Linked DNA regions of Homo sapiens. The protein of the gene in region 2 purifies or fractionates together with the protein of the main gene of each other region. This does not show direct contact. Each region holds a gene or a part of one and is shown on either strand. Other genes may lie near its edges. The genes, in order: CSNK1G3, ALPK2 and ARRB1.

Evidence for each region.
Region 1: the proteins of ALPK2 (region 2) and CSNK1G3 purify together in Homo sapiens (affinity purification with mass spectrometry; one large-scale study listed by BioGRID and IntAct). This does not show direct contact.
Region 3: the proteins of ALPK2 (region 2) and ARRB1 purify together in Homo sapiens (affinity purification with mass spectrometry; one large-scale study listed by BioGRID and IntAct). This does not show direct contact.

Annotation. Positions count from the first base shown.
Region 1 is NC_000005.10:123,571,052-123,574,708, reverse strand, and holds part of CSNK1G3 (casein kinase I isoform gamma-3), read right to left. Parts: intron 1,317-3,657; coding exon 1,168-1,316; intron 1-1,167. UniProt on the Homo sapiens protein: Serine/threonine-protein kinase. Casein kinases are operationally defined by their preferential utilization of acidic proteins such as caseins as substrates. It can phosphorylate a large number of proteins. Participates in Wnt signaling.
Region 2 is NC_000018.10:58,626,914-58,630,670, forward strand, and holds the start of ALPK2 (alpha-protein kinase 2), read right to left. Parts: upstream 2,179-3,757; 5' UTR 1,851-2,178; intron 1-1,850.
Region 3 is NC_000011.10:75,259,597-75,262,273, forward strand, and holds the end of ARRB1 (beta-arrestin-1), read right to left. Parts: 3' UTR 526-2,677; downstream 1-525. UniProt on the Homo sapiens protein: Functions in regulating agonist-mediated G-protein coupled receptor (GPCR) signaling by mediating both receptor desensitization and resensitization processes.

The DNA.
Region 1 (3,657 bases), on a different chromosome or scaffold from region 2:
ACACAAGCACACCACCACACCTGGCTTATTTTTTTTTTTATTTTTATTTTTGTAGAGACAGAGTCACACTATGTTGCCCAGATTGATCTTGAACTCCTGGGCTCAAGTGATCCTCTAGCCTCAGACTCCCCAAAGTGCTGGGATTACAGGCACAAGCCACCACACCTAGCCTATAAAACAATCTTTAATATGCACTTTTTAACAGCTGCATATTTTCCTCTGGATATTAATTTATTCAACTAACCCTGTTATTTCTGCATATTTGGGTTGCTTCTCCTTTTTTTATTATAAACATCCTTTCATATAAAGCTTTAAGTACCTATGAAAACATCCATAGGATAAATTTGTAGAATTAATGAGTCAATGAATAAAAACAATTTTAAGACTTCTGCAGCACACTTCTATTGGCATTTATTTCGAAACTGCCTTAAAATCACTCTCTAATTGTTATCCAACGGATTCCCTGAAGTCTAAGTAGTTTATCAAGACTCTCTCATTAGTCTGCCTCTTGTTTTTCCAGGTCATAAAGTCTATTACCAAAATTAAGAATCCATGTTTCTGGCCCGGCACGGTGGCTCACGCCTGTAATCCCAGAACTTTGGAAGGCCAAGGCGGGCGGATCACAAGGTCAGGAGATCGAGACCATCCTGACTAACATGGTGAAACCCTGTCTCTACAAAAAATACAAAAAATTGGTCGGGCGTAGTGGCATGCACCTGTTGTCCCAGCTACTCGGGAGGCTGAGGCAGGAGAATTGCTTGAACCCGGGAGGCAGAGGTTGCAGTGAGCCAAGATCTCGCCACCGCTCTCCGCCCTGGACAACAAAGCAAGACTCCGTCTCAAAAAAAAAAAAAAAAATCTATGTTTCTGAGGGTTCTCTTTTGAAGTAATCATCTTTTATATGAAGAAATGGCTAGCAACAACTTAATTTGCAAACTGAGCATTTTGATCTTAAAGCAATTATTAGTTTTTATACAAATAAAATATACTTGACTCAGTTATTTTAAGTTACATGGATCCCAGAAAGACAACATGAAAAGTAGAAACATTTGTATTACGTCAAACGCTCTGTAAGACAATATCACAGAACTTTAAACTTTTAATATGAATTTGTGACCAACAACCATGTAATTGTTCAAACAACTTCAAATACCTTATTTTACTTACCAGTTGTATAGCTATCATGAGAACTGTTTTAAGAGAAAATGTTCTGTCACACAAGTCAAACAAGTCTTCCAAACTAGGTCCCAGCAGTTCCAGCACCATAGCATTGTATTTACCACAAGGGCCGAAATAGTAAACTTGAGGTATACCATCTGGGGGAAAAGAAATACTCATTTAATAATTTCATCATCTTAAATACTAAGGTTTTCCTCTTAAAAACTGATATTTAAAATTTTATAGTTTCAAGAACTAAAGCAGTACTATCACTTTTTCCAGATACATACTTTTCCTGACCAAACCTCCCAACCTCCCAATACCTTCTCTTTGATGTTCACATTGTAGCCTGGATACACCTCTATTGCAGCTGCATGACTGAATTACATTATAAACAGTACTTCATTGTTTCTCTCTACCACCTTATTACTGGACAAAAGCTGGGCTTTTTAGCTTTATATTTCCATGGCCTGGAGAAAGGCTTAGCACATAGGAGAGATTCCAGTTCTACTGAAAAGAGAGTCACTACTGGCTTTAATAACCATGTGATAGGCATACTGCTAAGATCACCACTGTCAAGATTCCCATCCTCTGGCTTATACACCTTGTATAAACCCCTCCCTTTGAACGTGAGCATGATTCCTGGGATCTCACTATTGTGACCAGGCTAACTTATACGGCAAATGTAATTAAGGCTCCTATCAGTTGACTGTAAGTTGATCAGAAGGAAGAGAATCCTGGTGGACCTGACCTATTCAGGTGAGACTTTAAAAAGATAGTCTAGAAGTCAGAGATATTGGAAACAGCAGAGAAACTCTCCTGCTGGCCTTAAAGTAGCAAACCACCATGCAGTGGAGGGAGCCACATGCCAGATAGGAATCCTTGAGGAAGTAAGGGCCACACAGTTCTATTGCCATGAGGAATTGAATTCTGACAAGAATCAGTGAACTTGGAAGAGAGCACTGAGGCTCATGTAAGATTGCAGTCCAGGCTTACACCTTAATTTCCACATGGTAAGACTCTAAACAGAAGACCCAGCAAAGCCATGCCCGTATTCCTGACCCATAGAAATTGTGAGATAATAAAGTCTTTCATCTTAAGCCAGTAAGAGATAGTAATAATTCATTATGAAGCTATATAGAATAATACAAACTCCAAATATGAAGTCTGAATAATACAAACTCCAAATATGAAGTCATCTGTATTTTATTTTCAGAACTAACAGACTCCCAATAAACTGAAATGTAAGTGATCAATTTACTTTATATGGAAGTTGTCAGAATCAAAACAGAGTCACTTGTATTAAAACCCTGACAAACAGAGCTAGGGAAGGAGATGAAGGGAGGGTTCTCACACATATATATATATATGCCTGATAAGAAGAACTACCACAAAAGACTGCAAAAACCACAACCTGGAACAAAAGCCACCACAACTTTACAAAAAATTACTCTGTGAGGACATCTGCCCAGGAACTGCCTGTCCAACTTCAGACTGAGGCCATTCTTGTTAATGATCCTTGTAGCCAAGGGTAACTCTCTCAAAACAACTTATGTGACCCTCCTCATTTTTCCTTTAAAAACTCTTGTCTTCCTTTACCTCCCTGAATATACTCACATATATTCCCATTGTAATGCCCACTCGTAAATAACTATCATTTTCTTTTAGACAAGTCTCCCTATTATTTAGTTTGACACTTAACACTGCATTTATCTATTAGCATGAAAAAATGAACTTCTTCCACCACAAATGTCTCAGTTTTACTTCCAAGTGATTTTTTTTCAGTATATTGAAAGAGAAAACAAATCTAATGAAAACTTCTCATTCTTTTTAATAAAACGTTTTTTAAATATAACATTATTATTATTTACCCTATTATTTTGAATATAAATCATTGCAGGACAGAATAGAAAACACTGAACTAAAAACCAAGAAAACTACATTCTTAGTCTAACCTAATATTCATCAGCTGTGTGGCTAGCTTGTCATTCAACCTCTCAAGTGGGCCTCAGTTTACTTATCTATTATAATATTAGTGATTTGGATGAGACAAGTATTTCTCAGATATGAATATGAGTGAGGCAGCAGAACATCTGCAGGTGGGAATGTAAGCTAGTGTAATCACTGTAGTCCCAGCTACTCGGGAGGCTGAGGTAGGAGAATCACTTGAACCCAGGAGGCGGAGATTGCAGTGAGCCGGGACTGCGCCACTGCACTCCAGCCTGGGCGACAGAGCAAGACTCCTTCTCAAAAAAACAAAACAAAACAAAACAAACAAACAAAAAAAGATAGTGTAATCATAGCAGGAATGGATACAAATTCAAACTGCATACATGGTGCCCTCCCCAGAAACAGAGATTCTGATACACCCCAATGTGTATGTATCACCACCCCCTGCAAACACACACACATCACACACGCTTGTCCCATCTCCTCTTGCTACTGGGAATCAAAGACACTCCTACCACAGCCACTCTTAGATGTATTTGTCATATCTAC
Region 2 (3,757 bases):
AGGTGAAAAACTAACTTTCATTGAGAAACTATGATTCGACACATACTTTAGGTATATTTATTCATCTAATCCCCCATCAATCCTGTTAAAGTGAATACTGTTAAGATTTTACAGATGAGTAAACTGGGGTTCAAACAGGTTGAAAAGTTATGCTAAAATTAGGAGTCGATTCCAAATCTGACTCCAAAGCCTTTCTCAGGACCTCCCCTGCTTCTCCCACCTCCATCCAGAGTAAGATACTAACTCAACTGCATCGCATCACAGGGGCTGATACCTACACACAAGTGTTCAGGAGGCTGTTAAAAACTCATGAAACTGGAGGAGAAAAAAACTTTGTAGGTAATGACAATAGGAACTCTGCCCTACCTAAAAGCTTCCCAAAATTATGATTAAATGTTTGGTAAAAACATCAAAAAGACAATGTAGGCCAGGCGCGGTGGCTCACGCCTGTAATCCCAAGACTTTGGGAGGCCGAGGCGGGTGGATCACCTGAGGTCAGGAGTTCAAGACCAGCCTGGCCAACATGGTGAAACCCCATCTCAACTAAAAATACAAAAAAAATTAGCTGGGCATGGTGGCAGGCACCCGTAATGCCACCTACTTTGGGAGGCTGAGGCAGGAGAATCGCTTGAACCCAGGGGGCGGAGGTTGCAGTGAGCTGAGACTGAGACATTGTACTCCAGCCTGGGCAACAAGAGCAAAACTCTATCTAAAAACAAAAAACAAACAAACAAAACAAAACAAAAAAAGGACAATGTATATTTGGGAGCTAAAGTTCATTTAGTTTGTTTTAAGTCCTGATTTCCAAGATCTGAACATGGTTATTGGCCATCCATGCTTTTTAATACAGGATTTGTGAAGTTGTTGATTCGGAAGGTAACCCACAACATCCTTGGTTTCAATTCAGAAGCCACACAGCAAAAAACCCCTTCAATTTGTCCTTAGTTGATATAGAGTTATAAAACATATCACATATCTCTGGAATGACCATTCCTGGTTAATTAATCTTTAGAAATAAAGGCTACCTTTACTTAAGGAAAAGGTTGTGGAAAGAAAATAATTAGAGCAGAAGCAGCTCTAAATGCCGTTCTTGCTTTTATCTATTTTTAAATGATTGCCAAATGTCTGTAACTGACACCCTTAATCAAGGCTTTTAAAGTTTAGATGTGTTCATTAAATTGTAATGTGACAGTGGTGGCATTTAATTGATGGATTTTTTTTTGGCTGACTTTTTGCCTTAAATTTTTTTTTAAATCTATTTAACAACTCGATAAATGTTTACATCAGCCATTTTGAAAAGCCTGATAGCTTTTCAGCAAATTGCATTACCTGTTGTCAGACAATATACTCCTGTGTCTACCCAGATAGGAGAGATTTTCAATCATTCAGTTAATTCACAGTAAAAGGAATAACTCTTGACTAAAATACTCAAATATTTCAGACAAAAGTCTCTGGGGCCTGAGTTACCTGGATAGTTGACTTTTTATGTTGCTTTGCAAAACTTTACATATCACTCGTTTGAGTCATTCTGTATATTTTTTCTAACTGTTAAGATAGACATGATGTGAAAGAAACTGTTTTCATTCATTATTGTCAAGCCAAAATAAGCAAATTTAAAAATAGCAATAATTTTCAAAAAGGGTCAAAATGGACTTAAATTACAAGACCATGAGAGTTTGCCCACTTTAAAACCTTATATGCCCAAATATCCCATATAATCCCTATTGGTTTCATCTCATTCTATTTCATCAGGAAACCATCTGCTTTGTTCTTTGTTGCAGAAAATGTAAACAACTATATATTGAAAGCACAGCCATTCCTTATGTAAAAACCAAAGTCTACATACTTACTTTTCAGTACTCTTTGTCCAAGAAATGTTGTAGGAGGGCTGGCTCAGCTGTGGATTCCCCAGGCTGTGTGTGAGGCATTGATTGGGTGTCCCTGTTCCCGGGACAGGGATTCAAAGGAGTTTATAGGGCTCAGGGTCTTCCATGATCAGGTCAAAGCATAGATGGGTCTGCTTCCAGAAAGTTCATCTCTTCCTAAGAGGGGAAATTCCATGCCCGGGGAAGTTCTGGAAGAAGAGCATTTTTTCCCCGCCCTTCAGTGAACTAGGTCATTGCTGAAGCTGGAGAATATATTTTAGCATCCCTGTGATGAAACTTGAGGGCTGTTTCTGCAGTAGGTGCGACACTTGTTGACACGACACGCTGGGGAGGCCCTGGCAAGGGGGCCTGGTGAAATGCAGCCCCAGGGAGCTGATGAAACCCAGACGAGCTGTCACTGGCTGCTGCTCAGGAGACCGAGCAGCTCTTTACAAAGCCCATGCTGGACCCTGGGCTTAGTTGCTCGCTCCTTAGGAAAGGAAAAACTTGCTGCCTGATAAAGGGATTAAGGCCGGAGTAACACAACCAGTTCTCATACCAAGGTTATCAGGCATTTGAAGTACACATAGGAAACCCGTGGAGGGGGTGTTGGGGAGGTGAAAATATGTGTCATATGTTGTTCATTTAGAACAGGCATTATAGCCATCCTCTGAAGTTCTCTGAGAAAGGCAGAAGCCACAGAAGGAAGGCAGGATCCACCCTCCTCACCCTGCTTACCCCCCCTTACCCCTTGTCTGTCTGTCTGTCTCTCTCTCTCTCTCTCTCACACACACACACACACACACACACACACACACCCCTTCCTATTTTGACTACGATAGAAGAGAACAGACAAAGATCAGAAGAAATCCACAGAAGAAATACCACAGGTCCTATTCCTTCAGATTGCCTGGAATGGTTCTTGTTGGGAAAGTAGATTTTGTAATATGGGCAATTCTTTTATTGAAGTTTATCCAAGTCCAAAAACATAGAGAATCCTTTAGCATCATTCTGTAACTACTTAGCCTCTCCCCAAAAATATTTTAATGTATGACACCTGGAAATTGACAGCTTAGACAGAAACCTCTTTTGAGACTCGTGGAGACAGCTCAAATTAGCAGCTCCAGGGGTGACTTTGAAAGGGACATAGCTGTAAATATTCACTCTGTGTAGGGCACTGCAATCCTCAAAAGCAAATTGTTTTTACACAGCACAGAATGTACATCATTATCCCTTGATGGAATGCAACTTTTCACAAGATGAAAACTCATCTAAAACGATAAAATATTAAGAAATGTAGGGGTGATATGTTCTGTTTTTCAGTTTTATCTTCATGTGAGAAAAAAGATATTAAAGCTGAGGCACTGTAAAATAATGACTATCTCCTGGGGAACACATCTGTGAAATGCCACAGAACACAGAAATTACCAACTCTTTGCAAATGGTCGGCTTTATGGAAAGCTGAGGTCTTCACAATGTAAGGTCTTTTCCAGATAAGAAAGAGGAGATAACTTCAAGTTGGGAATGAAGAGAGGAGGAAAGTGTGATGATAAAGAATAAACAAATGCTGTCGCACACCACAGAGAGAATAAAGTCAAAAGTGAAGGAATGTCCCAAAGCAATAGATAAATGTGATATGGTTGTGAAAGAAGTGTTGCCTGGGAGTTATTAAATGGAAAAGTTGAAATTCACTATGAAACTTAATTTTGTTCCTCTGAAATAATTTGAAAAACCAATTCCCTCAACTCCCAACATTCATCTCCTAGCAAAATAAATGTAAAGAGCAGAAGGTTTATATATGTGCATATATAGATACACACACACACACACACACACACATACACACATATACATGCATGCATACACACATACATGCATATATATACACACAC
Region 3 (2,677 bases), on a different chromosome or scaffold from region 2:
TAATACAGTACATTATCTATTAGAACATCGACTCTTCCTCACTGATATCCTTACTCCTCCCATATGTTCTGTTAGACCAGGTGGCACATAAGTCTTTGAAAACTGAAGTGACTTCAGGAAGACCCAGCAGGGCAGGAGATAAGAAGTGAACAAGAACCAGGGCTGGGGCTGGGGTGAGGACTCCCACTGATGTGGTCAGTGGTGCCAAAGATAGAAGATAGGATGGCTTCACCCCAGGAGCAAACCATGGGTCACAAAATCCTGTGGTATCTGAGAGGGATGAGAGGTATGCCAGCTTCCCAAGGCCATAAGGCTGAAAAGTGGCAGAAGAGGGACAGGAGAAAAGTTTTTGGCAGTCTCCAGAAGTTGGTACAAGGACCAGGCTGGAGCTGGGGCCACAGACAAGGGAAGAGAGCACCTCACCCAGTCATGAGCCCCATCTGCCAGTCCAGGGCAGCAGGGAGGCATTTCTTGGTCTTTGACCTGCCATGGGCTTATGAGACAGAAATGAAAGCACAGCCAGCATCCTCTGCCACAAAAGACCTTTAATGGCCTCCTATTTATTGTTCTTTTGTTCATTTGTTAGAGTTGAATGAACTATAATAACTTGTCTGACATAATAAGAATGCCACAGGTATAACAGATAAACCTGGCAGGTGGTCCAGGAATGAGAGTGTCACAAAATAATCACTCAACACAAGGGCCACAGACCTGGAGATTCTTCCCAGCCATCCCTCACTCCTGCCCCAGGACACAACCCATGCAGGCCCCCATTCCATAGGAAGAGGCAGGTCCCACAGTGTCTGTGGCTAGACCTTAACACTGAGCAGAGATGCCCGGGAAGATGGCACTTCCTATGCTCGTTCCCAAGTGCTCTGCTCATCTGCCATGCAGGTCAGGACCATACCCCGAGTTTGTGAGGCACCCACCTCTCATACTCACCACCTCATATGACCACCTATCATACCCACCTCTCCTATGACCCTTGCAATTGTCCCAGTGAGGTGGGAAGAGCCTGGACTAGCCCCATTTTGCACACAGGGAAACTAAGGACACACTCGGACCGAATGTAATACACCCGTGTCATGCGCTTGCTGTGCCCTGAGCTTCACATTTTCACCTAGAATTCCCTGGGGGGTGGGAGTGGGGGACAGGGCAGGCAGGGTTTTGTGCCAAGGGCTGGTCCAGTTCTCACTAAAGTGTCCAGGATTCCTGGGGGAATCCTGCCCTCAAAGGAGGGACTTTTGTCATAAAATCCTCCCTGAGTCTGTCTTTTATGTGAGCCAAGATTTCCATCCATCCGGCGCTGTGTAAAGATGAATTTAACCCTAGCCTCTCTCCTATCACACTGCTTCTCCTGCTGTGTCCCTTGGGCCTAGGCCAGGAAAGTGGGGTGCCAGATAGGGGTGCAGACACAAGTCCTCAGTGGGGGATTGAGCCTGTTTCCTTGCTCCAGAGCTCCCCATGCTTCATGGGCCAATATCAGGGTCACGACCCATCCCCACTGAGCACCAGGTCCCTGTCCAAATCAAACCTTGGCCAGAGCTTCAGGGTGGGTTGGCTAGAAAAACCATCAACTATGTACGTGTGTGTGTGTGTGTGTGTGTGTGTGTGTGTGTGTGTGTATAAATGCTTGTGCCTGGGTCTGTGACCCAAGTTCCAACACAAAGACACTTTGTACTGGAACGCTGGAGCCATTCCAACATGAACAGCAAGAATAGAACCTGTGCTGGCTGGTCTAAGATCAAACCTCGAGATGGTGGTTTGAAGTTCTTCTTCAAAGAAAGCTTGAAAATGAAATCTCAGTAGGCAAGACAGATAAAAGCAGAGTTATTCTGGTGGCGGCGGAAATGGGAGGAGGGCTGGAAACCTATCCTTTGCCTCCACTCCCATCTTCCCACTTTAGCATCCCCTGACAAAGCTCTGTGGAATATCAGGGGTTCCGCAGCACCTGGTTTGAAAACCACTGTGTCAGTGTCTACAAACCATAGGCCCCACGGACCTGTGCTTTGACTTCCCTTTTGGGGTGACGAGTTGGAGTGTGATGGGGGGAGGATGTTTCCCCTTCAACAGGGCGTGTCTTTGAAGCCGCTGTGCAGTGACCCTGTGGGGAAGTGGTAGAGGTGGGGTCCTGCCACTTTCGTCCAGGAGGAATGGCAGAAGAGATGGAGCTGCCTGGGCCAGGAGGAAACACCAAGCCCAGTGCAGGCCGTATAGATGAGGGTTCAGGAGTGTTTTGGTCCTTTTGAGTTTAAAAAATTATAGATATCAGAACAGGCATAGGCCTATGTCCATGAGACCCTATAAGAGTGTAAGACTGGGACCTAACCCCTTCCTCCTGGATGGGTGGAGAGCAACCAGTCCCCAGTGACAGGCAGGAGAGAAGCTGCCGCTCTGGGATGCTGACGCCACTGCATCCGCTGTGGCTCGGCTCTCAGGACAAAAGGCTTGGGTTTTTCCTGGGCCCGAAGCCCTCCCAATGTCACTGAGAAGCTGTGGTGGCTCCAGTTGCTCCTGGAAGAGGCCTTACACTTTGAAGGGAAGGAACAGACAATTTCTATTTCTCCTTGCCCTTAGATTTCTGCGGATGGGTGGTTTCAGCTCCCTGAGCCTGGGGGCTGGTGGCTCTCTTTAACCTGGGTCAGAGCCAAGGCCCCTTGGCCTCTGTGGGGTCTGA